Regions from separate parts of the Homo sapiens genome. Here all the other regions are linked to region 3. The links come from fine-mapping of genetic effects on gene expression. A gene starts in region 3. Each other region holds a variant in brackets. All regions are shown on one strand. Distances are from middle to middle. Region 1 holds the start of LOC101929643 (a long non-coding RNA gene). Region 2 has its middle 100 kb from the start of TAF1B. Region 3 holds the start of YWHAQ (tyrosine 3-monooxygenase/tryptophan 5-monooxygenase activation protein theta).

Region 1 (8,180 bases), 69 kb after region 3:
CAGTTTCAAAGATATAAAAGCCACTTACCCCAAGATCCTGACACTTTCCGTTTAGGGCCTTGATTACCCAGGGCTTTGCTGCTTTTCTTTCAGTCTCTCGCCGTGTGATCTCTTGGTCATCTTATGACTCACAAGAGGCTCCCTGCCAATGGGCAGGACCAGGGAGAGGAGAGAAGGAAAGCAGGCCAGGCACACAGCTACTTATTAGTAGCCTTGGCAAAGTGAGTGAGGAGGTTAAATTGCTGGGCTAGGTTGAAAATTGGGAATTACTTGTGGATTTTATTGTTTTCCCTCTAGCAAGGATAAACTGAAATTTGCCAAAAAGCAAAGAACAAATCATTCAAAACTGTTAACGAGTTACTATATTTTCCTGGGACAGATTCATAAAATAAGGTTCTTTAAATGGAGTCAGTCCAATACCAAGCTTTCTCTTGACAGTATGTCTGGCCCAGGACAAGGAGGACTTTACCCCAGGCTAAGAACAGAAGCAAAGAACATGGGGAGAGAGGAGCAGCATACATTTGGGTCCAAACCTACTGTGACTTGGTCTCAAGTCTTCATGGAGAAAACTGGATCAGGTGAAGAAGAAGAATTAAATCAGGCCAGGCACAGTGGCTCATGCCTGTGATCCCAGCACTTTAGGAGGCCAAGGCGGGAGGATTGCTTGAGCCCAGGAGTTTGAGAACAACCTGGGCAACAAGGCAAGACCCTATCTCTATAAAAAAATTAAAAAATTGGCTGGGTGCAGTGGCTCACGCCTGTAATCCCAGCACTTTGGGAGGCTGAGGTGGGTGGATCACCTGAGGTCGGGAGTTTGAGACCAACTTGGCCAACATGGTGAAACCCCATCTCTACTAAAAAAAAATATATATATATATACACACACAAAAATTAGCTGGATGTGGTGGTGCGCCTGTAATCCCAGCTACTCAGGAGGCTGAGGCAGGAGAATGGGGTGAACCTGGGAGGCAGAGGCTGCAGTGAGCTGAGATCACGCCACTGCACTCCAGCCTGGGCAACAGGGCGAGACTCCATCTCAAAAAAAAAAAAATTAGCTGGGCCTGGTAGCACGTGCCTGTGGTTACAGCTACTCAGGAGGCTGAGGTGGGAGGATCACTGAGCTCGGGAGGTCGAGGCTGCAGTGAGCCATGTTCACACCACTGCACTCCAGCCTGGGTGACAGAGCTAGACCCTGTCTCAAAAACAAAAAAGAATAATGATTAAATCACAAGAGATTTACTATCAGAACTCAGAAGTAGCCAGGAATAGAAAAAGATGTAATTTTACAGTCTCCCTGCTCTCTGCTGGTTACCTGACTCCATCACCCTATGTAAGAATGGCTTTGAAGGACCAAATATTTGCATAATTGACAGCTTGATTTTGGACTCTGGCCTCCAGAACTGTGACAAAATAAATGGGATCTTTAAAAGACTAAGACTACTAAAAAATGGTGCAGACCTGCAATCTACAAATCAGAATGTTCAGATGCCAGTGAGTAGAACGTTCAGATGCCAGTGAAGGATGCTTAGGTTTTTCATAGCTGGATACATAGAGCAAGGATATTCCAGGCAAGAGGAATTTCAGGAGAAAAGGCAGAAGGGCAGAAGGGGAGGTAACCTTAGGCTGTGTTCCATAAGCATTGTAATATTTTCTTAGCGCTGCTGTGATAAGTTGTCACAAACTGGATAGCTTAAAATAAGATAAATGGCCAGGTGCGGTGGCTCCACCTGTAATCCTAGCACTTTGGGAGGCCGCAGTGGGGTAGATTGCTTAAGCTCAGGAGCTTGAGACTAGCCTGGGCAACATGGGAAACCTTGTCTCTACCAAAACTAAAAAAACTACCCAGGCGTGGTGGCTGGCATGTGCCTGTAGTCCCTGCTACTCAGGAGGCTGAGGTGGGGGTATTGCTGGAGCCCAGGAAATCGAGGCTGCAGTGAGCCGAGATGGCGCCACTGCACTCCAGCCTGGGTGACAGAGCGAGAGAACCTGTCTCAAAAAAACAAAACAAACAAACCAAAAAATAAAAAATAAAAATAAATAAAATAAAAACCAAGAGAAATTTATTCTCTCCGTTCTAGAGGCCAGAAGTCCAAAATCAGGGTGTCTGCAGGGCCATGCTCCCTCTGAAGGCCCAGGGGAAGAGTCTTTTCCTTGCCTCTTCCTGGCTTCTGGTGTCGTGGCGCTCTTTGGTGTTCAGTTTGTAGGTGTATAACTCTAATCTCTGCATCCATCATCTCACGGTGCTCTCTCTGTGTGTCTCTGTGTCACTTCTCTTCTTACAGGGACATCAGTCATTGGATTTAGGGCCCAGCCTAATCCAGTATGACCTCATCTTAACTTGATTACATCTGCAAAGACCCTGTTTCCAAATAAGATCACATTCATAATACCAGGGGTTAGGACTTGAACTTATTTTCTTGGGCAGGGGAGACACAATTCTGCCGCTATAAGCATTAAATTGTCTAATTTATTTAGATGAGGGAAATTGTGAGGTATCTGGCTGTATGTCAGATAATGATATTTGTTTCATAAATAACTGTTAACTGCCTTAGGCAGAACACTTATTTGATATGGAAGGTAGTAGGGTCCTCACCTTTACGAACTTGTGCTTTGGTAGAAAATACCAAAATACCATCAAGAAGCAACAATGCAAGATAAAATGAAGGACGGGCTATAAAAGAACCAAGAAAAAGCCCATGGATAGGAGACATTTAGCTGGTGTTATGGAAGACAGGTAGAGGTACTGGTGGAGAGGAAGCAGAGGTAAGAAAGTCACTTCAGGTATTATGGGAATGATAGGGACTAGTTCAAAGGAGAGAGAGTGAGGGATTGAGCTGGACAGTTTCCTTTAACACCACTAAGTATATTAACTATTGCTTCTGCAGAGTTTTTGTTTTTTTTTTTTTAAGTGTAGTAGCAGTGTCTCAGCTCACTGCGACCTCTGCCTTCCAGGTTCAAGTGATTCTCCTGCCTCAGCCTCCCAAGTAGCTTGGATTACAGGCACATGCTGCCACGCCTGGCTGATTTTTGTATTTTTAGTAGAGACGGGGTTTCACCATGTTGCCCAGGATGGTCTTGAACTCCTGACCTCAGGTGATCCACCTGCCTCAGCCTCCCAAAGTGCTAGGATTACAGGCGTGAGCCACCGTGCCCAGCCGAGAATGAAATATTTAAAATAGCTTTATTTGACCTAAAGAGTATAACAGTAATGTGACTAAATGCAATGTAGTATCCTGGGTTAGATCCTAGAACAGAAAAAGGACATTAGTGACAAAATTGCAGTCCAATTAGTGGCTTCCAGGGACTGGGAGGAGGGGGAAAGGTGGTTTAATGGGTATGGGGTTTCCTTTTGGGGTGATTAAAATGTTCTGGAATCAGATGGTGGTGATGATTGCACAGCACTGTAAATGTATTGAATGTTGATGGTAAATTTTGTGTTATGTGTATTTTATCATAATTTTAAATTTAATTTAATTATCTATTTTGAGACAGGGTTTCACTCTGTTGCCCAGGCTGGAGTGCAGTGGCACAAACATGGCTCACTGCAGCCTTGACTTCCTGGGCTCAAGTGATCTTCCTGCCTCAGCCTCAGCCTCTTGAGTAGCTGGGACCACAGGCATGTGCCACCATGCCTGGCTAATTTTTTTTATTTGTTGCCCAGGCTGATCTTGAACTCCTGGGCTCAAGCAATCCCTCCTTAGCCTGCCAATGTGCTGGGATTATAGGAGTAAGCCACTGTGCCTGGCCCCAAAATTTCTTAAAGACCGTAAGGCACATTAAAAAATAAAAAAATCCGGCCAGTGTGGTGGCTCACACCTGTAATCCCAACACTTGGGAGGCAGAGGCAGGCAGATCATCTGAAGTCAGGAGTTTGAGACCAGTCTAGCCAATATGGTGAAACCCCATCTCTACTGAAAATACAAAAATTAGCCGGCCATGGTGGCACAAGCCTGCAGTCCCAGCTATTTGGGAGGCTGAGGCAGGAGAATCACTTGAACCCGGGAGAAGGAGGTTGCAGTGAGCCAAGATCGCACCACTGCACTACAGCCTGGGTGACAGAGCAAGACTCCGTCTCAAAAAAAAAAAAAAAATCCAAATGTCTGCAGTTTAGTTACTAGTATTGTACCAGTATTATTTTTTTAGTTTAACAAACATACCATGATCATCATGGTCAACATTTAGGAAGCTGGGTGAAACAGGAACTCCATACTATCTTTGCAACTTTTCGGTAAATCTGAAATTTTTCTAAAATGAAAATTTATTTTAAAAAGTTAATGTGGGCCAGGCGTGATAGCTCACACCTATAATCCCTGCACTTTGGGAGGCTGAGGTGGGCAGATCATCTGAGGCCAGGAATTCAAGACCAGCCTGGGCAACATGGTGGAACCCCATCTCCACTGTTATACAAATATAAAAATTAGTTGGGCATGGTGGTGCACGCCTGTAGTCCCAGCTACTCGGGAGGCTGAGGCACAAGCAATCGCTTGAACCCAGAAGACAGGGGTTGTAGTCAGCCGAGATTGTGCTACTGCATTCCACCCTGGGTGGCAGACCGAGACCCCATCTCAAAAAAAACACAAACCCAAAAAGTTAACGTGAAAAAAATCCATGATCCTTATTTTTCCTGATGCATTTGGGTGTTTGTGTGTTTATATATATCTATCTTTTAGAGTATAATTTCTTTGAGGCCAAAGGTATAATGTGT[A/G]TCTCTTTGGTATAATTCTTAAAATATTAGTAAAATTTTCAGAATTTAAACATTGAACAATCAAGTTCGGTTTTTCTGAAGAGCCCTAAGTAGAACAGCTTTTCAATTAAGGTCTCTGGCTGCTGTGGAACTGGAGGGTAATTGGTGAGAGTCTCCTCTCTGGGGCCTGTCAACCCAAGAGTAATGACTTCTGGCCACTTCAGACCTGAGGTAATTTCAAACCAGCACAAGTTTCCATTTGTTCTCTTTATCTAGTCTGCTCTCTAAGTTCAGTTATTCATGTGGTTCAATTACCCCGAGATCTCAAGGGAGAGAGGCAGGGATTTAAGAAGGAAAAGAACAGACACAGCTCCATATTTTATGTGGCATACAATATGTAGGATGTATGATACTTCTGCACACAATGGTGGTTCATATCAGTGGGATGTGGTGGCTCACACCTGTAATCCTAGCACCTTAGGAGGCCGAGGTGGGTGGATCGCTTGAGCCCAGGAATTCGAGACCAACCTGGGCAACATGGTGAAACCCTGTCTCTAAAAAAAAAAAAGAAAGAAAGGAGACTTTATAACAATTAAAAAAAATTCCCCCCAAAATCATCTGTTCATCAGTGAGGATCTGCAGATGTCTCTGCTTTGTCCCATGCATATTTGTCATTTTTCTAAAAGGTTGATTTTGCCCGGGCACGGTGGCTTATGCCTGTAATCCCAGCACTTTGGGAGGCCGAGGTGGGCGGATCATGAGGTCAAGAGATTGAAACCATCCTGGACAATATGGTGAAACCCCGTCTCTACTAAAAATACAAAAATTAGCTGGGCGTGGTGGCGCATGCCTGTAGTCCCAGCTACTCGGGAGGCTGAGGCAGGAGAATCACTTGAACCCGGGAGGCGGAGGTTGCAGTGAGCTGAGATCGCGCCACTGCACTCCAGCCTGGCGACAGAGCAAGACTCCGTCTCAAAAAAAAAAAAAAAAAAAAGGTTGATTTTTTCTAAAATGGGTTAAAATTTCTTAACCAAAACCTTAGAAATTAGAGTTCTTGGCACATGACTTTGTATAAAGTCCTATTTTTCATTAAGTGGCATCTGTTGTCTTATTTGTGGGTTGACTCATACTTAAAGCGACTGCTTTCCACAGATTTGTTCATCAGCAAAAAAGCATACAAATGCAGGAATAATTACCATTTTAGAAACAGTGAGGATGGCTCTATCCATCTATAAAAACTGGTGGGGTTGGTGTAAGACAAAATTGGCTAATAAGAGAAATAGAGCTAGAGAAATAGATAGAAGGAAACAAAACACCCAGCCAGAACCAGTTAGTTCTCTGGTCATTTAGACAAGGTTTTACTGGTACTTGTGTGGGTTTGGTAGTTAACTGCAGAACCATATGTGGCTCATGTGTTTAATAACTGCAAATGTTTACTCTTAAATTCACTTGCGGTATCTAAATTATGAATAATTAATTCCACAGCATGGGATTGGGGAACCTCAGGAAATATTTTTAATTATCTTTATTAAATCCTAAATTAAAAGCATCACTTCAGGTGTTAAGAACCCAGGATCCCATCAACTTGTTTACGTATTTTTTTGAACAGATGATAGTGGCTGTGTAACAAATTACCCCTAATTTAGGAGCTTTAGAACCACGAACACTTATCTCCCAGCTTCTGAGGCTGAGGAATCTGGGAGTAGCTTAGTTATAGTCAGATGGTAGGTCAGGGGCTGCAGTGATCTTAAAGCTTGCCTGGGGCTGAATTCCTTCCAAGCTCACTCACATAGTCTTTGGCAGCTCCTTGGTGTTTGTTGGCTGCTGACCTGTTCTATTGGACCTCTCCATAGTTTTCCTGAGTGTTCTCATGACATGAAAGCTGGCTTCCCCCAGAGTGTGTGATTCAAGAGGAAACAAGCAAGCAAGAGAGCACCTGAGATGGAGGACAGAGTTTCTTGTGTCCTAACCTCAGAAGTGACATCACTTCGGCTGCATGCTAGTGGTCACAGACCAACTATGGCCCAGTGTAGAAGAGGAAGCAGGCATCATTGGGGGCCATCTTGGAGGCTGGGCTACCACTGTGGCTGTCAAATCTTTGAGGTATTTATACTCTATTGGAAAACTTTAAAATAATGACCTAACAGCTTTAATTTTAAATGTCAGTATTTATGCTGAAAGTTTCATAATTTGCTACTACTACGCTAATGATGAAAAACTTTAAAGATACACCTAGGGGGTATATAGTTGTTTTTTTTTTTGAGATGGAGTCTCCCTCTGTCGCCCAGGCTGGAGTGCAGTGGCGCTATCTCGGCTCATTGCAACCCCCACCTCCAGGGTTCAAGTGATTCTCCTGCCTCAGCCTCCCAAGTAGCTTGGACTACAGGCACGTGCCACTGCGCTGGCTAATTTTTTGTATTTTTAGTAGAGACGGGGTTTCACCGTGTTAGCCAGGATGGTCTTGATCTCCTGACCTCGTGATCCGCCTGCCTCGGCCTCCCAAAGTGCTGGGATTACAGGTGTGAGCCACCACGTCTGGCCAGGGGGTATATAGTTTTAAAAAATTATTTTGGTGCTGAGTGCAGTGGCTCATACCTGTAATCCCAGCACTCTGGGAGGCCAGGAGTTTGAGATCAGCCTGAGGAACATAGCGAGACTCCACTTCTATAAAAAAAATGTAAAGATTAGCCAGGTGTGGTGGTGCATGCCTGTGGTCCCAGCTACTGAGGAGGGTGAGGCTGGAGGATTGCTTGAGCCCAGGAGGTCGAGACTGCAGTGAGCTGTGATTGTGTCACGGTACTCCATCCTTGGCTGCAGAGCCAGACCGTCTCAAAAGATAAAAGAGCCGGGCGCGGTGGCTCATGCCTGTAATCCCAGCACTTTGGAGGCCAAGGCGGGCAGATCACGAGGTCAGGAGATCCAGACCAGTCTGGCCAACATGGTGAAACCCTGTCTCTACTGAAAATACAAAAATTAGCTGGGCATGGTGGCGCACAACTGTAGTCCCACCTACTTGGGAGGCTGAGGCAGGAGAATCCCTTGAACCTGGGAGGCAGAAGCTGCAGTGAGCCAAGATCATGCCACTGCACTCCAGCCTGGCAACAGAGCAAGACTCCGTCTCAAAAAAAAAAAAAAAAAAAAAAAAAGATAAACTAATTAATCTATCCAGTGCCCCTCTTACCATATTCCTTTGGCTCTTTATCTCCCCCACGTGGTGCTCTTTTATCTTAAAAGTATGCACAATTGATAAATGAAAGATGAACTGCAAATTGGAATAATTTGGGTCCTGATTTGTGAATTGAAAAGATTACTTGAAATTTGGAATGTCCCTGGAAATCTAGGACTTCTGGTTATTCAGGCCAGGCGCGGTGGCTCACGCTTATAATCCTGGCACTTTGGGAGGCCGAGGCGGGTGGATCACCTAAGGTCAGGAGTTTGAGACCAGCCTGGCCAACGTGGTGAAATGCCATCTCTACTAAAAATACAAAAATTAGCT
Region 2 (8,180 bases), 110 kb before region 3:
CGTCTCAAAAAAACCCAAACAATTTTTGTCAGGAAAAAAAATGTTTTCACTGTTGTTGCTGGCCTTGCTGGTGCCCTAAGCGCATGCTCACTCAGCCTCTTGGAAGCCATCATGGAGGAATGGTGACACTCAAGAAAGTGTGTCCTCTCAGTGAGCAGCCCCAGGCAGGGGCGGTAGAGCAGTTTCCACAGCCCCTCTTCCTGGGACCCCGCTCGTCCCAGCACCACTTGGCCTCATTGAGGACTGCTGTCCTGGCTTTCTCACTGTTCACATGTTGCCAGCAAAGCTGCCAGCTCTCTCAGACCCCACGTGTGGCTGCAGACCCCTGGCCCCAGCTGGACATCTGGAACTTAGGACCAAGACATGTCAGTTCAGTCTTAACTAATAACTTGAATGGAGAAGCTGCATTTTTTTTTTTTTTTTTTTGAGACAGAGTTTCGCTCTTGTCACCCAGGCTGGAGTGCAGTGGTGAGATCTCGGCTCACTGCAACCTCCACTTCCTGGGTTCAAGTGATTCCCCTGCCTCAGCCTCCCGAGTAGCTGGGACTACAGGCGCCTGCCACCATGCCCGGCTAATTTTTTGTATTTTTAGTAGAGACAGCGTTTCACCATGTTGGCCAGGCTGCTCTTGAACTCCTGAAGTCAGGTGATCCACCTGCCTCAGCCTCCCAAAGCGTTGGGATTACGAGAAGCTAAATTTTGGGAGCAGTGGTGACTACATGTCATGCCACATGGACAGAGAAGGAGGAAAATCTCATCTCCAGGAAAAGAAAAATGCAGATTCACAAAGAGAAGCCAGGATGAGACTCAGGTGGAGCCGAACCATGAGTTCCCATTGCTCCTGAAAGCCAGCTCAGTTCTTACCCTCAGATTCTGGGAGACACCCCCAAATCCTTACAAGAATTCCCCTTTGCAGTTTGAAGATGGATTTCTGGAACCTGTAACTAAAATAGTCCCAACAACTGACCCCACCCATAAACCAAGCACAGGTGCAGGCCAGAGGCACAGCTGAGTGCCTCCTCCAAGTGGCATCTCCAGTGACCTTACACTGGTTCCTGAGATGGCCCCAAGTGAAGTACAGCAAAGGAAACCTCAGGACAAGACATGTCCCGATCCATCACTGGAGCCTGAGGTCCTCTTTCTGGTTAAACACGTGAGGCAGGTGCTACTCTTCTCCTTCCTGTATGGATGAGAAGGGCTCAAAGGGTTAAGTAACATGATTGAGGTAACACCAAGGTGAGTACATTTGCCTTAGTCCATTTGCATTGCCATAAAGGATATACCTGAGCCTGGGTAACTTATAAAGAAAAGAGGTTTCTTTGGCTCATGGTTCTGCAGACTGTACAACAAGCATGGTGCCAGCATCTGCCTCTGGTGAGGGCTTCAGGCTGCTTCCACTCATGGCAGAAGGCAAAGGGAAGCCGGTATGTGTAAGAATCACATGGGGAGAGGGAAAGCCAGAGAGAGGAGGAGGAGGTTCCAGGCTCTTTAAACAACCAGCCTTTGAGGGAACTAATAGACCAAGAACCTACTCATTATAACAAGGACAAGGACAGTACCAAGACCTTCATGAGGGATTTGTCCCCATGACCCAAACACCTCCCATAGGCCCCCACCTCCAGTATCGGGGATCAAATTTCAACATGAGGTTTCGGGAGACAAATATCCAAACCACAGTAGCATTACAGCCAGAATTCCAAGTGTGGCTGACTCCAGCCGGTGTATCTGTTGTTGTTCACACGTTACACCCATGAGTCGTCATCCATGCCACCTACTACCAGTGGACAATGACCTCGTGGTGCATGTACCCTCAGTGATCCATCTGGCCACTGCAGAGACAGGTGAGCTTGAAAAGGGGCCACCATGGCCACAAATCAGAAAATGCAGGATCACAAATGGAATTGTGGGATACAATTCTTTGGCATAGAAAGGGCCAGGCAAAATTATGACACAGTGCATTAATAATTAATTAGTGCTTAATCAGGAGCTCTACATAGCAGTTCATTACCCAAGGACACTCCCCATTATAACTGTAGCAAATGGGTCTGGGCAGGCAGCCCTGCCAGCCTCTTTTGAGGCTCACCAGTGACTTTGAGGCTCCCCTTCCAGGGCTGAGGTCACTAACCTCCCCTAGACCTGGCGACCAGTAGCTGGTGTAAGAGGTCCCCAAGAACAGGGGTGATCTGACTCACCCTGGAGAAATTTAAGACACGCTGGGAAGGCAGAGCCCTTGCTTAAAAATAACTCCTCAGATTTCTGCAGTGGCGGTACCATAGCCAATGAGGTTTGCCTGAGACATGATTATTGCTAATTGAAAACTTTTCCCTATAGCTTGTCATGACAACTTGAAATATAATTGGCATCGAGAATTTTTGAGACTCTCTACAGAGGCTGAACAACCAAAAAAACATAAAAATTTAACTCCTCCTCAGCTTCACTTTGGCACAATGCCAGAAGGACCTCTATTAAGTTGTGCACATTTGTGCAGCCCCCCACCCCCCAACTTCAAATACAAATGCCCATCAGGGAGCTAAAACCTTCTGCATTCGTTGGTTGGAGGAGTCCCCACTAGGGTATGAGTGTTGAGGGTGTAGGGGCAGGAACCACATGTGAGTCGTTGTTGTATTTGCCACACTATGTGACAGGTGGGTGGATGGATAGATGGGTGGATGGGTGGGTGGGTGGGTGGGTGGGTGGGTGGATGGGTGAATAGATGGGTGGATGGGTGGGTGGATGGGTGGATGGATGGGTGGATGGATGGGTGGATGGGTGGGTGAATGGATGGGTGGGTGGGTGGGTAGATGGATGGATGGATGGGTGGGTGGATGGATGGGTGGGTGGGTGGGTGGATGGATGAGTGGATGGATGGTAGGATGGATGGATGGGTGGGTGGATGGATGGGTGGGTGGATGGGTAGATGGATGGATGGATGGATGGATGGGTGGGTGGGTGGGTGGATGGATGAGTGGATGAATGGATGGATGGGTGGGTGGGTTGATGGAGAGACAGGAGTGAAAAATACACAACAGAGGGAGAGGAAAATCACAGTCTATCCTTGCTTGTTTCCAGCAAAGAAGAACGTAGCTCCTGACTGGCTGCCACATATGTGTCTGAGCAGCGAGTTCCAGGGACCTTCTCAGTGATGCCGATGGCCTCTCCAGGCAAATAGCGCAGGCCTGGCCGGTATCCAGAAGGAACTCCAGGCTGCCTCTCCTTCCCGGACGCACACCCTCCCCTGGGGAAAGACCCCAGACAGAGCCCGCGGGGCCTACAAATAGCAGAGTCCCTGGCTCTGAGCACAGGCAACGGAGAGGGGACGGGAAACGGGACTCGGGCGCCAAGTCACTCCCCTGCCTCGCCCTGGCGGAAGGGCAGGCGTCACACCTCTAGGAGGAAGGCAGATGTGAGAGGGCTGAGCCCTTCCGGGGGCTCAGAGGATCAAAGGCACTGACATCCTAAGAGAATTGGAAACCAGAAACAGGGCCGGGCGCGGTAGCGCACGCCTGTAATCCCAGCACTTTGGGAGGCCGAGGCGGGCGGATCACGACAGAGCGAGACTCCGTATCAAAAAAAAAAAAAAGAAAAAACAAAATAGAAACCGGAAACAGGATGAGCTGGGTCTGCAGAAGCGGCGTGTGGGACCCATTCCCCGCAAGGGCTTTGTGGATAGGAACCCAGCACAGACTTCCCTCTTATCAACAGGACCGAGGCATGAGAACACGAGGGTCAGCCTGGGCTCCCTGACCGCAGTCTCCTCAGAAGGGAGTCTGGACAGCGAGTCTTGCCTCTGCTGCTCCTCTGGGGCCTCCTGATGCCTGGCAGGGAGA[G/A]GAGCCACCGTGTGAGGGTTTCTGAAATTAAACTGTTCTCAGAGTCGCAGCTGTCAGGAAGGGACAGCAAGAGCCAGCTGACAGGAGCCTGAATCTTTCCAACGCAATCCATCTAGGATGGGAAAAGAAAGACCAATTTCCAGCCTTGCCAGACTCCTAGGGATGGGCTGAGCATGCAGACTCTGTCACTCACCAGCCGCTGACCTTGGCCAAGCACCTCATTGTCTCTGAGTCTTGGTTTCCTTATTCATAAAACGATAAAAGTCCTGATCTCACAAGGCTGATGTGGGAGCCAGAAATAGCGATGCTGTGTGACAGGCCCGCAACCCTTCCAGTTCCTCTCCCTCACCAGCAAGCCAGAGGCCTGTTTTATTCAGGGTTTCTGGCAGCCACATGCTTCAGGAGAAGCAGGACTCCCTGGGAGCCTAGCACAGTGTCTTGATTGGTCTAAGCCAGTCACGGTGACCCAGTGATTAGTTTATGAACGGGCGTGTAACTTCATTCTGACTAACAAGACACGAGAGGAAGTGTCTGGATGAATTTGGGGAAAGTTTCCCTTACTCTTAAAAAAAGAGCTATAAAGAAGGGGCTTTCTCTCTTTCTGACCTTTGGGTGTGGTTGGGTGAGAACATGATACTTAGAACTGCTGCAGCCATATTGTGACATAAAGGGATAATACCCAACATAAAAGCCAAGAGGCTAACGATGGCAGAGTGTCGAGATGAAAAGAAGCCAAGTCCTTGGTGACAGCCTTGAGCGGTTGAATTAATTTCCCTTGGGATGTCCCCAACTTGAGACATCTCATTAAGTGAGAGAATGCTGTCCCAAGGTCAGAGACACGGGACAGTGGGGGTCAGGGGCAAAGGCTCTAGAGCTTGACTGCCCAATCCACCACCACTACTACTGAGGACTTTTGGCTTGTTTATTTTCTCTCTCTTCTCAGTTTCCTCATCTGTGAAATGGGGATGGTGATAATAACCGTATCTGGTTTATGAGATCATTGTGAGGATTTAAGGGGTTAATGTGTAGAAAGTATTCAAATCGCGTCTGGCACATGGTAAGTGTCATGTAAGTGTCAGCTATGACTATTGCAAGCCATTTTGACTTTTTCTGTTATTTATATCTCAAAGTATCCTCTTAAAGTCCTCATGGAATAGGTGCTTGGTCAGTAGTAGCTGTGTGTTCACAAGTTTCTGGGCTGAACAACTGTGTGCGCCACTGTATGTGCACAGAGATAGTACTAATGCAAATGTCCCAAGGAGCTTCTCGAGTGGACATCACTGGACTCCTGCACCCCATCCCCAAGGGGAGCTTCTGCAGGAGGGGAATAAGCAGAAAGCAGGAGAAGGCATTCCAAAGTGCCTGGTGGGGACTGGGGGAGTGGAAGTGGGGGGCACTAGGAGGAGTGGGGAGTACCAGAGGAAGTGGGGGGCACTAGGGGGAGTGGGAGGTACTAGGGGGAGTCAGGGGTACTAGAGGGAATGGGGGTACTAGGAGGAGTGGGGGGCACTGGGGGAGTGGGAGGTACTGGGGGAGTAGGGGGCACTAGAAGGAGTGGGGGTTACTAGGACGAGTGGGGGTACTAGAGGGAGTAGGGGGTACTAGGGGGAGTGGGGGATAGTGGGGGAGCCAGGGGTACTAGAGGAAGTGAGGGGTTACTGGGGGAGTGAGGAGTACTAGAGGGAGTAGGGCACTAGGGGGAGTAGGGGGTACTAGAGGAAGTGGGGGGTACTAGGGTGAGTAGGGCACTAGGGGGAGTTGTGGGACATTTGGACAGAGGCCAAATGCACAAAACCTATTCCAGAAAGAGCCAATACACTGGCTCAGCTGAAGAAGAGCCTGGGGATGGAAGAGCAAGGAGAGACAGTCCCGGAAGTGCAGGCAAGGCTGAGAACGGGCCGGCCTCGAATGATGAAGCGTTAGGATTCCGTCTTACAGGGCAGCAACACCAAAGGTTTCTGAGCAGGGCAGCCTCGGCAGTGTGGCTCAGGGGAAGAGCTGCTCACCATCTGCATTCATCTGCTCAGGCTGCCATAATACAACACCACAGGCTGGGAGCTTAGGCAACAGAAATCTATTTCCAAACCAGTCCTATTGGATTAGGTAACTGAGGTCACACTTATAACCGCCATTAACATTAGTTACCTCCATAAAGGCCCTATCTCCAAATACAGTCAGTCCTGGGTAGGATCTTCAATGCGTGCATTTGGGAGACAATTTGGTCCACAGCACCATCACTCTTTGGGATGAGCTCTAGAGGTGGATGTGGGAAACAGACACCGAATAGGAAGCTGCTGTCTTAGCCCAGGTGCAGAAAGAAGGAGGGGGCTTCTGAAGGCAGAAGGCAGCAGTAGACACAGAAAGGAAGGTGAGCATAAGAGCTGCTGAGAGGGAGGAATCTCCTCACACAGTTCAACACAGTAACTGCTATGTGACCCAGCAATTCCACTCCCAAGTATCTACCCAAAAGAATGAAAATTAGGGACCCACACAGGTACTTGTACACTCACGTTCATAGCAGCATTATTGACCATAGCAAAACAACCCAAATGTCCTTCAACAGATGAATGGATACACGAAACGTGGCATATTCACATAATGGAATATCATTCAGCCATAAAAAGGCATGGAATTCTGACACATGCTAGAATGTACATAAACCTTGAAAAGGTAGGGACAGAAAGGGGTGATCCCCTTTCTCCCCATCATAAAGGGTCACAGCCAACACCCCTACAACAAAAAGCATGTTAACAAGAGAAAATCATAACAAAGGTATTATGTGCACAGATGTGCAAGAGTGTTTACAAAACATGAACTCGAAGAGGGACCAGATGGTTGAGGCTTAATGCCCTCTTCATAACAGAGAGGGGAGTGGGGAAATGACTAGGCCCAATGCTCAGACAATGGTTAGTAATTGATTCTCTTTCAGAGCTAGATGGGACAAGTTACAGGAAGGTGAGAGGCAGAGCTGCACAGGAACAAATGTCTTACTGTGCAGATAAAGATCTCCAGGTGATCTCTGGGGTGAGCTTCCTTCCTTGAAGACAAGGACTCAATGTTTTCATTTCTACATCCTCAGAGTTGGTGCAGGTCCTGGCATGGGTGGACCTCTGCAGTTGCTTAATGGATCCATATAATCCAACTAAATTCATACAAGGGCAGGCCCAGCAGGTGTTCCAACAGAGTCAGTAGGGGACGTGCTAGATGAGCATAAGGAAGTTAAAGAAAGTTTCTCCAGAAAAGATAATAGTGACATTGTAGTTTCTTGGAAGAGGTGCCATTTGCCCCAGGCCTTGAAATATGACAGTCATGTGGGATAAAATTATGATACAACATCCCCTATTTAGGGGTCAGGCTTCTTCCCCTAAACTACTTCTGCAGTTTTGCCCCTCAAGCTTGATGATAGGTATTTCTGAAGTTGCAGAGAACTGTTCAGTATTAGAGCAAATCCATCCCACACTTCTTCCCAGAGCACCCAGAAAACAAAGACCGCCTTGGTGGAGGGGAGGTCTAGGAAGAGGGAATGGACAGGGACATGGGTCCCCTAAACAAGGCAGAGTGAGCTTCTGGAAACATGAACCTGCTCACATCACCCCTCTCTTCTCTCCCCCTTGCCTGTGCCTGAGTCATAAACCCTTGGCCTAACATTTGAGGTTCTTTACCATCTGGCTTGTTTTGGCCTCTCCATTCCAGCACCACCCTGCCCCAAACCACAAAGCCCCATCAGACCACTTCCCCACTTTGGCAAACATGCTAAGCTCTTCTGTGTCTCTGCACTTCATCGTGTTATTCCCTTAGCTTACAATGCTTTTCCCCACCTCCTTTACACCTGAAAACCCTACTTGTTCTTCAAGTTCCTCCTCTGTAGTCCTATTTTGATGCCAAGTCCATTCCTGTTTCGTCTGGGCTTCCCCAGGCTTTCTTTACCTCTCTCTAACTCCATTATGACACCTGACATCTATCATTTGATCTGCCATATGAGGCTTAGTTGGTTCCCTGTCTCTGTCCTCACTAGATCCTGAGAACCTTCAGGGAAGGATAATGTTTTCTTCATCTTTTAGTCCCCAGCACAGTACCTGGTACATAGTGGGTGCTCAGTGAAACTGCCAACACATTGAATGGAGCTCCCCCAGACACACAATATGGGAGACAAGCCCTTTGAGAATGCTGCTGGGGGTGTGATTGTAAAAGAATCACACAGGGGGTCTTGGAGTATAATCATTAAGTCTGAAGATAGATAGAATATATTTGAAAGGGTATTCTAGAAAATCAGTAACAGTAGTTGCTGCGGGGAAGGAGAGCTGGTGACCAGGATAAGAGGGAAGTTAATTTTCACTCAATACTTATTTAAAT
Region 3 (8,177 bases):
TTAGCACCCACAGGCCAGAGTTGGGGGGCAACTTTCTCTGCCCACTGCACAGAAGCACCAATAATAATTATATGAAGAGTTTGGGTGAAAAGTCCCACTCAGATGTTTGCTTGTCACTAAACTAGCTGCCATATGGCAGGAAAGGAAGAAGTTTCTGGTGATCCACTGGTCTGAGCAAATAAATCACTGAAACGATTTATGAGAGTGAGCTTAACCTGAAGGACTCATTCATTCTGAAATGTACATGGAATGTAGCCATTCTGTAGACCATTAACTGCACTAATTACAACAATGATTCAAGAGATAAGCTTTCACTAAACATTTAATAAAGTTCTAAGGCTCCTTGCAGCAGGATAGCATCCTGCCAGCGCCGTACCCCACCTCCAAGCAGAGGGAAAGAAGGAAAGAAGAAAACACTACTTATGGAACACTTGCTATATGCTCAGCATTTCCCTATGTGACAGCTCATCTAATCTCCAAACAACTCTTTGATGTAGCGATGATGATGATGATTTTTGAGACAGGGTCTCACTCTGTTGCCTAGGCTGGAGTGCAGTGGTGCAATCATGGCTCATGCCAGCCTCGACCTTCTGGCCTCAGGCGATCCTCCCATGTTCAGCCTCCCGGGTAGCTGGGACTACACGCATACGCCATCACACCCAGCTAATTTTTATGTTTTTTGTAGAGACAGGTTTTTGACATGTTGCCTACACTGGTCTGGAACTCTTGGGCTCAAGCAATCCACCCACCCCGACCTCCCAAAGTGTTGGGATTACAGACATGAGCCACTGTGCCCAGCTGGGATTATTTTTATAGATTACAGGTAGAGAGAATTGAGTTTCAGAGAAGATCAAGGTATCCAAGGTCAAATCACATATAAATAGCAGGGCTGAATTTAGGGTCTTCTGGCTCCATGTTAATGTGCTCCTTTTTGTTCCAGGAGCTTCTTCATACCAGGTAACTTAGAAAAAATAATAAGAACTTCATAAATAAAGTAATAATTTCTCAGTACTCCCTTTGCTAGCTGTCTGTTCCTTGCACTTCTTCCCAGTATGTTGGATGTGATGCTTAACAGGTTTCACATTTATTAGGGTGAAGCTCCTAGAAGACAGAGGCTGGTCTGATCCATCCTAGGATCTCTACAGCATCTAGCAGAGATCTGGGGAGACTTGGTGAGGCAGCCTCAGCAGTGGTTAAAAAGATGGGCTTTGGCACCCAAACTGCATGGGGTCCATATCCAAGGTTCTGCCGCTCTCTAGCTGTGTGGCCCTGTACGTCATGCTTGACCACCCTGTGCCTTAATTTCCTTGTCTGTGAAATAGAGATAGTGAGTATAATAACACCTACTTTGTAGTTGCATTAAGCAGATTGGATAAGTTAATTCTTGCAAAAGACTTAAAATAGTGCTTGACATATGCAATCACTCAACACAGGTTAGCTCTTTCTGTGTCCAGGGACTTCAAGTTCCCAGAGCCTTGTTTCTCTCCAACCCGAGTTCTTTCAGGCACAGAAGCCTTTAGCTATGTAGAGGGTCCTCTGAATCTTCCTAAAATGCAATTTTATACTGTGTTATTGGTTGGAAGCAGTTTTTACCCATGATTCCAGATGATTGCAACTAGATGAGTTGGTGTTCAATAAATATTTGATTGAATGAAAGCAGAAATTTCAGAGACTAAGGTACAGAAAGCAGCAAAAACTTGCCCAAGGTCACTGGGGGAGACCACAGCACAGCCTAGACTTTCTGACAAAGAATTTAGTGTGCTTGCTCCTTCTGGTAGTCCCTCTCTACCACAGAGGTTCCATCCCCTGACAATTTCCTCTCCTGGGTCTCTATCCCCCATCCACCTCCACTGGCTTCTCCCCTTGCCCGGGTTGCCTCTAATTTTGGTGAGCTTGAAATTCACTGGTCATACAGAAGGCATTTTATCTGACCTTCCACATGCAAATTCTTTCCATTGGGATTTCTCGGTGTCCAGCTCCACCCCAGCCCACAGGGCCATAAACACTCATGTGTCTGTAGCGGGGCCCCAGGGATTCCAGAAATAACAGCAGGGCCCTCCATTAGAAGGCTGGAACATAGTAAGGCATTTCTGCATTAAGACACAGGCCCTTTCCAATCCAGGCCGCTCCTGTCTGTCAAAGCACAAAGCAACCTTCACAAGTCAGGACAGGGAGGGGCAGTCAAGAGGGAGTCTGAATTTCTGGAAAGTCGGCACCTTCTCCTCCCATCTGTCTGCACTCTCAAATCTCCCATTCTAGAGATTCTCCGGATTTGCTCCAGTCTCCACTCAGAATGGGAAATTCTTTATGATCCATTCTCCTTAGACCTGCTGGAATCGGGATCATAGCAGCGTGAACCCAGAGGGCAATTCTCATCTTAAGATGGCACAGGGACCACGCGCCAGACGGGCAGGGCAGCCACCCTACCTGGATGGAGTTAGGGAACTGGGGAAGTGCAAGGAGAGACAGGAGTGGTTTAAGAGGAAAGGGAGCTGCCAGGGATGACCCTGAATGGGAGGGGCCTGGGGGAATCTTTCTCGCTTCAGCAGGGTGTTCCCCAGGAGGAGAAAATCAGAAATCAACATCCAGGGAGAGGATTTCAGCTTTTCAAGTGACCTCTCACAAATAATACCAGAAACAAAAGCGTGTGCACATGTGACAACGATGTGAAAAATGATGTATTTAGGTGCATAACCTGGAAAGCCTAAAAGATACATAAAAATTGCTTTTTTTTTGCGGGGAGAGATGTTATGGGCAGGGTTTTTTTTTGCGGGGGTGGGAAGGGGTAGTAATAGGTGTTTTCCTGCAAATTGTGCTTAATGTCATTTCTCATTTTAAAGAAAACCACAATACTTGGCATTGTCACAGAAACTCCCCTGGATCTTCTGGGACCTACCTTTTCACAAGGGAATTTTTTGTTTTAGGATGCCCATCTGAAAACTTGAATTTATCATGTAAATGCCATACTGAAGACACCGTCTCCAGAATCAATTCTTCTTTAATGGGGATGCGGTTTGCTTAATTCGGAGCCCTAATGGCAACGTCATTAAGGTCTGGGTTTAGTGTCTTGGGATCCAAACCTTTGTCACGGATAGAAAGGTGGAGGAAAGAAAGGCCCCCGTGCTCTAAAACAGCTGAATATGTCACCCTCCGAAGTCCAGCCTCGGCCAGAGCCCGTGAGATGCAATGCACCATCCGCAGCGGGAGACGCAGCCGCCGCCTAGGAGGTCGTGCGCGCCTCTGGGTCTCGTGCCGCACCCAGAAGTGCCGGGGTGGCGGGGAGGCTGAGGGGAGTTGGTAACGGCATCGCCATGGCAACAGTGACGTCCTTTTACCCTGGATCTAATTGGAGGAAACCCCGTGGCCGAAGCCGCAGCCTGCCGGCCAACCGAACTTCCCCGTACCGACCCACCCTCCTAGCCTCCGCGTTCCCTCCCGCTCCGCCCCCCTCGCCCCCTTCCGCGCGCTCGGTCCTCATTGGCCAGCGGCGCGCTGGGGGCGGGACTCTCGGGAGAAGCTCGGCGCATCATTGGGCGGTGGACCGCCCCTCGGCCCCGGGGTAGGCTGACACGGGAGGGTCCTCAGCTAAAGCCAAAAGCAGATCAAAGTGGTGGGACTCGCGTCGCGGCCGCGGAGACGTGAAGGTGAGCGCCTGGGTCGGCCCGCGGGCTTCCTCCGGCCGCGCTCGGATTGAGGGCCGGGCGGAGGTGCCGCCCTTGAGAGCAGCCGGTTGTCGATGCCGCTCCCCTCAGGGACGGCTCCGGGCGGGAAGGTGCGGGGCCAACGGTCGCTTCCATCTTGGGCCGGCCGGGCGGGGGTGGCGGGAGCGGCCGCGGCTCGGGCTCCCTGCGCGCGGGGCCTCCGCGCCGCCCCCGCCTCCTCCAGCCGCGGGCCGCGGCCTCCCCGGGTGCCCAGCGGGGGAGGGGGCGGGGGAGAGGGAAATTCAAGCGGCCGCGTGTGCGGGAGACAAAAGCGGGCGGCGGGCCGCATTGTCTGACGGCGCTCCCTCTCTGCTTTTTGTTCTCGCCTCGCCGCCCCGCCCCTCCGCAGCTCTCGAGGCTCCTCCCGCTGCGGGTCGGCGCTCGCCCTCGCTCTCCTCGCCCTCCGCCCCGGCCCCGGCCCCGCGCCCGCCATGGAGAAGACTGAGCTGATCCAGAAGGCCAAGCTGGCCGAGCAGGCCGAGCGCTACGACGACATGGCCACCTGCATGAAGGCAGTGACCGAGCAGGGCGCCGAGCTGTCCAACGAGGAGCGCAACCTGCTCTCCGTGGCCTACAAGAACGTGGTCGGGGGCCGCAGGTCCGCCTGGAGGGTCATCTCTAGCATCGAGCAGAAGACCGACACCTCCGACAAGAAGTTGCAGCTGATTAAGGACTATCGGGAGAAAGTGGAGTCCGAGCTGAGATCCATCTGCACCACGGTGCTGGTGAGTCCTCGGCGCGGGGAGCAGGGGAGGCCTTTTGTGAGATGCTTTTCATTGAGAGTTTCGCGGGCACGGAAACAAACGTGAGCCGGGGCTTGCCGGACTGTCTGCTGGGGTGGAGGGTTTTAGGTGAGCCCTGACTTCCCTACTGTGTCCCTCCGGTTGTTGAGACTCAAGAAGCCGCTTTTCCAAGGATAAGTCCTTTTTTTTCGCCCCAGATGCTGGGTAGCTACCAAACGATGGAACTTGGAAACATCCAAGTAGGTCTCTGCGAGACTGAAAGGCGTTTTTAAGTTTCTTGTGCGGGGAGACTGCGTCCTGAGATCTGTGAGCCCTTTAAATGTATTCAGTCGGTTCACAAGCTTCAGGCAGTTGAAAGAAGGCGCAGGCACCTTTTTGTTACAGACAATGTAGTAGGGATTTTTTCCCAAACCCAGTAATGGAAATTTACTTAGAAAATCTGAACAGATACTTTATTTTTCAAGTAAGAGTATCTGTTGTGCTCCCCCCCACCCCCCATAAACAGGAGAGGAGGGGAGTTCGGGAAATGTGAAAAGGACACAGCTGTATCTGAAGAACACAATGTCCTGGTAAATTTCAACATTTAATAACATTTCCTTGCTGTTGCACACCTGTGCTTAAACACTAGTGTTGAAGTGAATTCGTTTCCAGTGTGGAGCAGACAAGGAAAGCTTTCCAGGTTTTGAACTGTCCAGTCTTAGCAAGGACGATTGTTGGGTGGAGTAGGTGGCTGCTGTGATTCACCCTTATTAGTGAGAGAGAACATTTTTAGCTTTGTCATTCCATGGATCTTTTGATCCGTAGGATAAGTTTTTAAAACTGAAATACCAGCATTATATCCAGGAGTGTTTTTAAATGTTTCAGTGCTGCCAAGAGTCATTTCTATGAATAAAATGGGAAATAATCTCATATGGTTTGCCTTTTAAGTGTCACTTTTACAAGAGGCCTACTTATTTTTGATGTGTTTGTGCACATCATATTTTAGGTGGGCTTTGATAGACAAGCATACTAGACTGGGGATTTTTCAAAAGGGAATGGAAGAAATAATTTCTCCCTGGCCTCCTCCCCCACCCCCACCCCCCAAGCCGCCTTTCTTCATCTCATCAGAATGGTGGGGCAGGGAATATGTTCCCCACCCCTTGTTTAAAAAAAAAAAATCCACGAAACTTTTTTAACCTATCTATTTTTCTAATACGATGACAGGCGATCCGGACAAAATCATGGCTGATGGAAATAACTGGTAAAGAGGCAAAGAAAGTAATGCAGACAGTGTGTACTAAAGTGGAGAAAACTTAAGATTATTTACTTTATGAAGTCAAAACTTCGTTGTATTCTTCCGTGTGCTCTTAGCTTCCAGTCCCTGCTTGGCATTGAAGAAGCACTTGTAAAAGCTTTTTGGACTGAATTGCTCGTATTAAAAAATTTTGCCAACTTGAAAGTAGTGGTAGACTTCAACTTGAGTAACATATGGTAATGGCTGTTAACAGCATTATCTGTTACCAAGGGAAGACTCATAAGAATTCCATATGTTAAGGTTTTCTATGTATGTATTTTGGATACTCTTACAGCATATTTCATTTCTGTTCAGTTTATTGCTTTTCAATTAGTTACCTTGAAGCAATTCAGAATCACCGCGTGATTTTTCTTGTTCTCGAGCAAGGTGACTCTGAGCCAAAGGAATATTCGTTTTATTTTGTGGCTCTTATAAATTCTGCTTTTTATGATGGCGTAAGTCGGGGAAGAGTTTTGCTTAGTTGATACGTAGCTTGAGAGAGAGACCAGGTGTTATTAGAATAGAACTTTCATACAGACCATTTCAATGGGGACAACCCCTGAATTTAGGACAGTCTCTTTTATATACTGAGAAGACATAGAATAGTTTAGTTTGATGAATCCGAGACACCAAGGCATAAATGAAATATTCATAAAATGGCTTAAGAGGCTAACTGGGGCTTGGTGGCCAACCTATAAAAAATATCTTGGGAAAGCACTTCTTCAAGTTGGCAACTGTATTGAGAGCTTTCTGTGTGCCAGGCACTGTGCTCTGAGCAATATGGGGAGGAACAAAACAGAACCGTGGATTTTGCCCTCTGATGATTTATAATTTAGAGAGCATGTGAGAGATACACAAACATAAATACCACAATATTCCCATCAGATGGTTAATGAACACAATGCTATGTAGTCTGAAGGAAATAGAAACCTTTGAAAAGGCTTCACAAAGATACCGTTTTTTTGGGGTGAACGTTGAGGGAAGAGGCTGGCGGAGGTGTCAGTATTAAAGGAATATCCGGGGTAGGGCTTGTTCGGGGAACAGTGTGTCGGTGTGGCTGGAGCAGAGTTCATGTGCAGAGTTGCTGCAGGAGACAAGCCTGGAAAGGAAGGCAGCCATCATCATTTATAGAAGATTGGAGTAAGGGGGGTTTCTTCATTTGGTTCATGGGAAACTGGTTTTTTTAAAGTTTTATTTATTTATTGTAGAGATGGGATCTTGTTACACCCAGGCTGGTCTTGAACTTCTGGCCTCAAGCAGTCCTCATGACTTGGCCTCCCAGAGTCCTGGGATTACAGATGTCAGCACCACTGTACATGTAGCAGCATCTAGAATTCGTGGTTTGAGGGCTGACTAACCAGTCTGTGATCTGAACTGACAGATAAGGAAGTTATAAGACAAGTGATAATTGATGAGTTAGTAATTTAATAAGGAGTCTAGGAAAGTAGAGTAACACCTAAAGTTTTTGAACATGCGTGCTAACATAGGGTTTTCTTTTTTTCCTTTGGTGAACAGGAAGAAAGATTTGGTGTGGAGGAGGTGAGACTAACTTGGTAATTATAGAAGACTAGTTAAAGTAACATGAAGGATAGCTAAATTTTTGGTAGAAAAGAGCAGATATTCTCAGCCTCCTCCCTTTCATAGAGTAGGTTGGGGCAGAATTACTTAAACCATGTATTCAAAATAACTGTGTGAACAACTCTCAACCCTTTTGATAATCACGGTATTGAAAGAGGTTACTGAACCGTGGAAGCACAAAAAAATGTTAAAATCCAAGAGTAAAGAACTATAAGTGAACCAAACTCTCTAAGATGAGGGGAGTTAAGATTTCATCCAGTTAGAGCTGTCTCTCAGTGTCATTGTAAAACCGAAGACTTTGGGCTTAACTTTCTAAGTCTCTTCGAGTTCTCATGGTTTGGGGCTGTAGAGTAATGCAGGTCCTAGCCATTCTGCTCTGCTCTGACATCCTTCCACCTCTTAAATGAGTAGTTTTTAAAGTCCAGATTGAAGAATACATGACAGGTTGAAAACTGGTGACTTTAGGGAAATGGCTTCAGAAAGAAGTGAGGCAGAAGTCATTGGTGATCTTACTGAGTGTTGGCAAGAGCAAAATTTAGACACAAAAAAACTGGGCTTTGGCTGGATGTGGTGGCTCATGCCTGTAATCCCAGCACATTGGGAGGCCAAGGCTGGTGGATCACCTGAGGTCAGGAGTTGGAGACTAGCCTGGCCAACATGGTGAAACCCCGTCTCTACTAAAAATACAAAAAAATTAGCCAGGCGTGGTGGCACATGCCTGTAGTTCCAGCTACTCGGGAGGCCGAGGCAGGAGAATCACCTGAATCTGGGAGGCGAAGGTTGCAGTGAGCCGAGATGTGCCACTGCACTCCAGCCTGGGCCACAGAGCGAGACTCTGAAAACAAAAACAAAACCCTGGGCTTAAATATTACAGGTAAGATG

Evidence for each region. PIP is the estimated chance that this variant, and not a neighbour inherited with it, causes the effect.
Region 1: its variant is fine-mapped to the expression of YWHAQ in whole blood (TOPMed, PIP above 0.99).
Region 2: its variant is fine-mapped to the expression of YWHAQ in whole blood (TOPMed, PIP 0.93).

The regions. Positions count from the first base shown.
Region 1 is chr2:9,557,559-9,565,738 of GRCh38, reverse strand. It overlaps LOC101929643 (a long non-coding RNA gene), which reads right to left and starts at 657. Exons shown (of 3, transcript XR_922777.3): 1 at 29-657. The variant A/G (reference allele first, on the strand shown) is at 4,706.
Region 2 is chr2:9,734,854-9,743,033 of GRCh38, reverse strand. It overlaps the pseudogene RNU4-73P. Among named protein-coding and RNA genes, the nearest start is that of TAF1B, 100 kb to the left of the region's middle. RefSeq lists an enhancer at 4,449-4,548. The variant G/A (reference allele first, on the strand shown) is at 3,828.
Region 3 is chr2:9,626,408-9,634,584 of GRCh38, reverse strand. YWHAQ (tyrosine 3-monooxygenase/tryptophan 5-monooxygenase activation protein theta) reads left to right here and starts at 3,588. Exons shown (of 6, transcript NM_006826.4): 1 at 3,588-3,644; 2 at 4,051-4,426. The coding sequence starts at 4,133. RefSeq lists silencers at 3,267-3,436, 3,487-3,586, 3,787-4,136 and enhancers at 4,257-4,356, 4,100-5,002.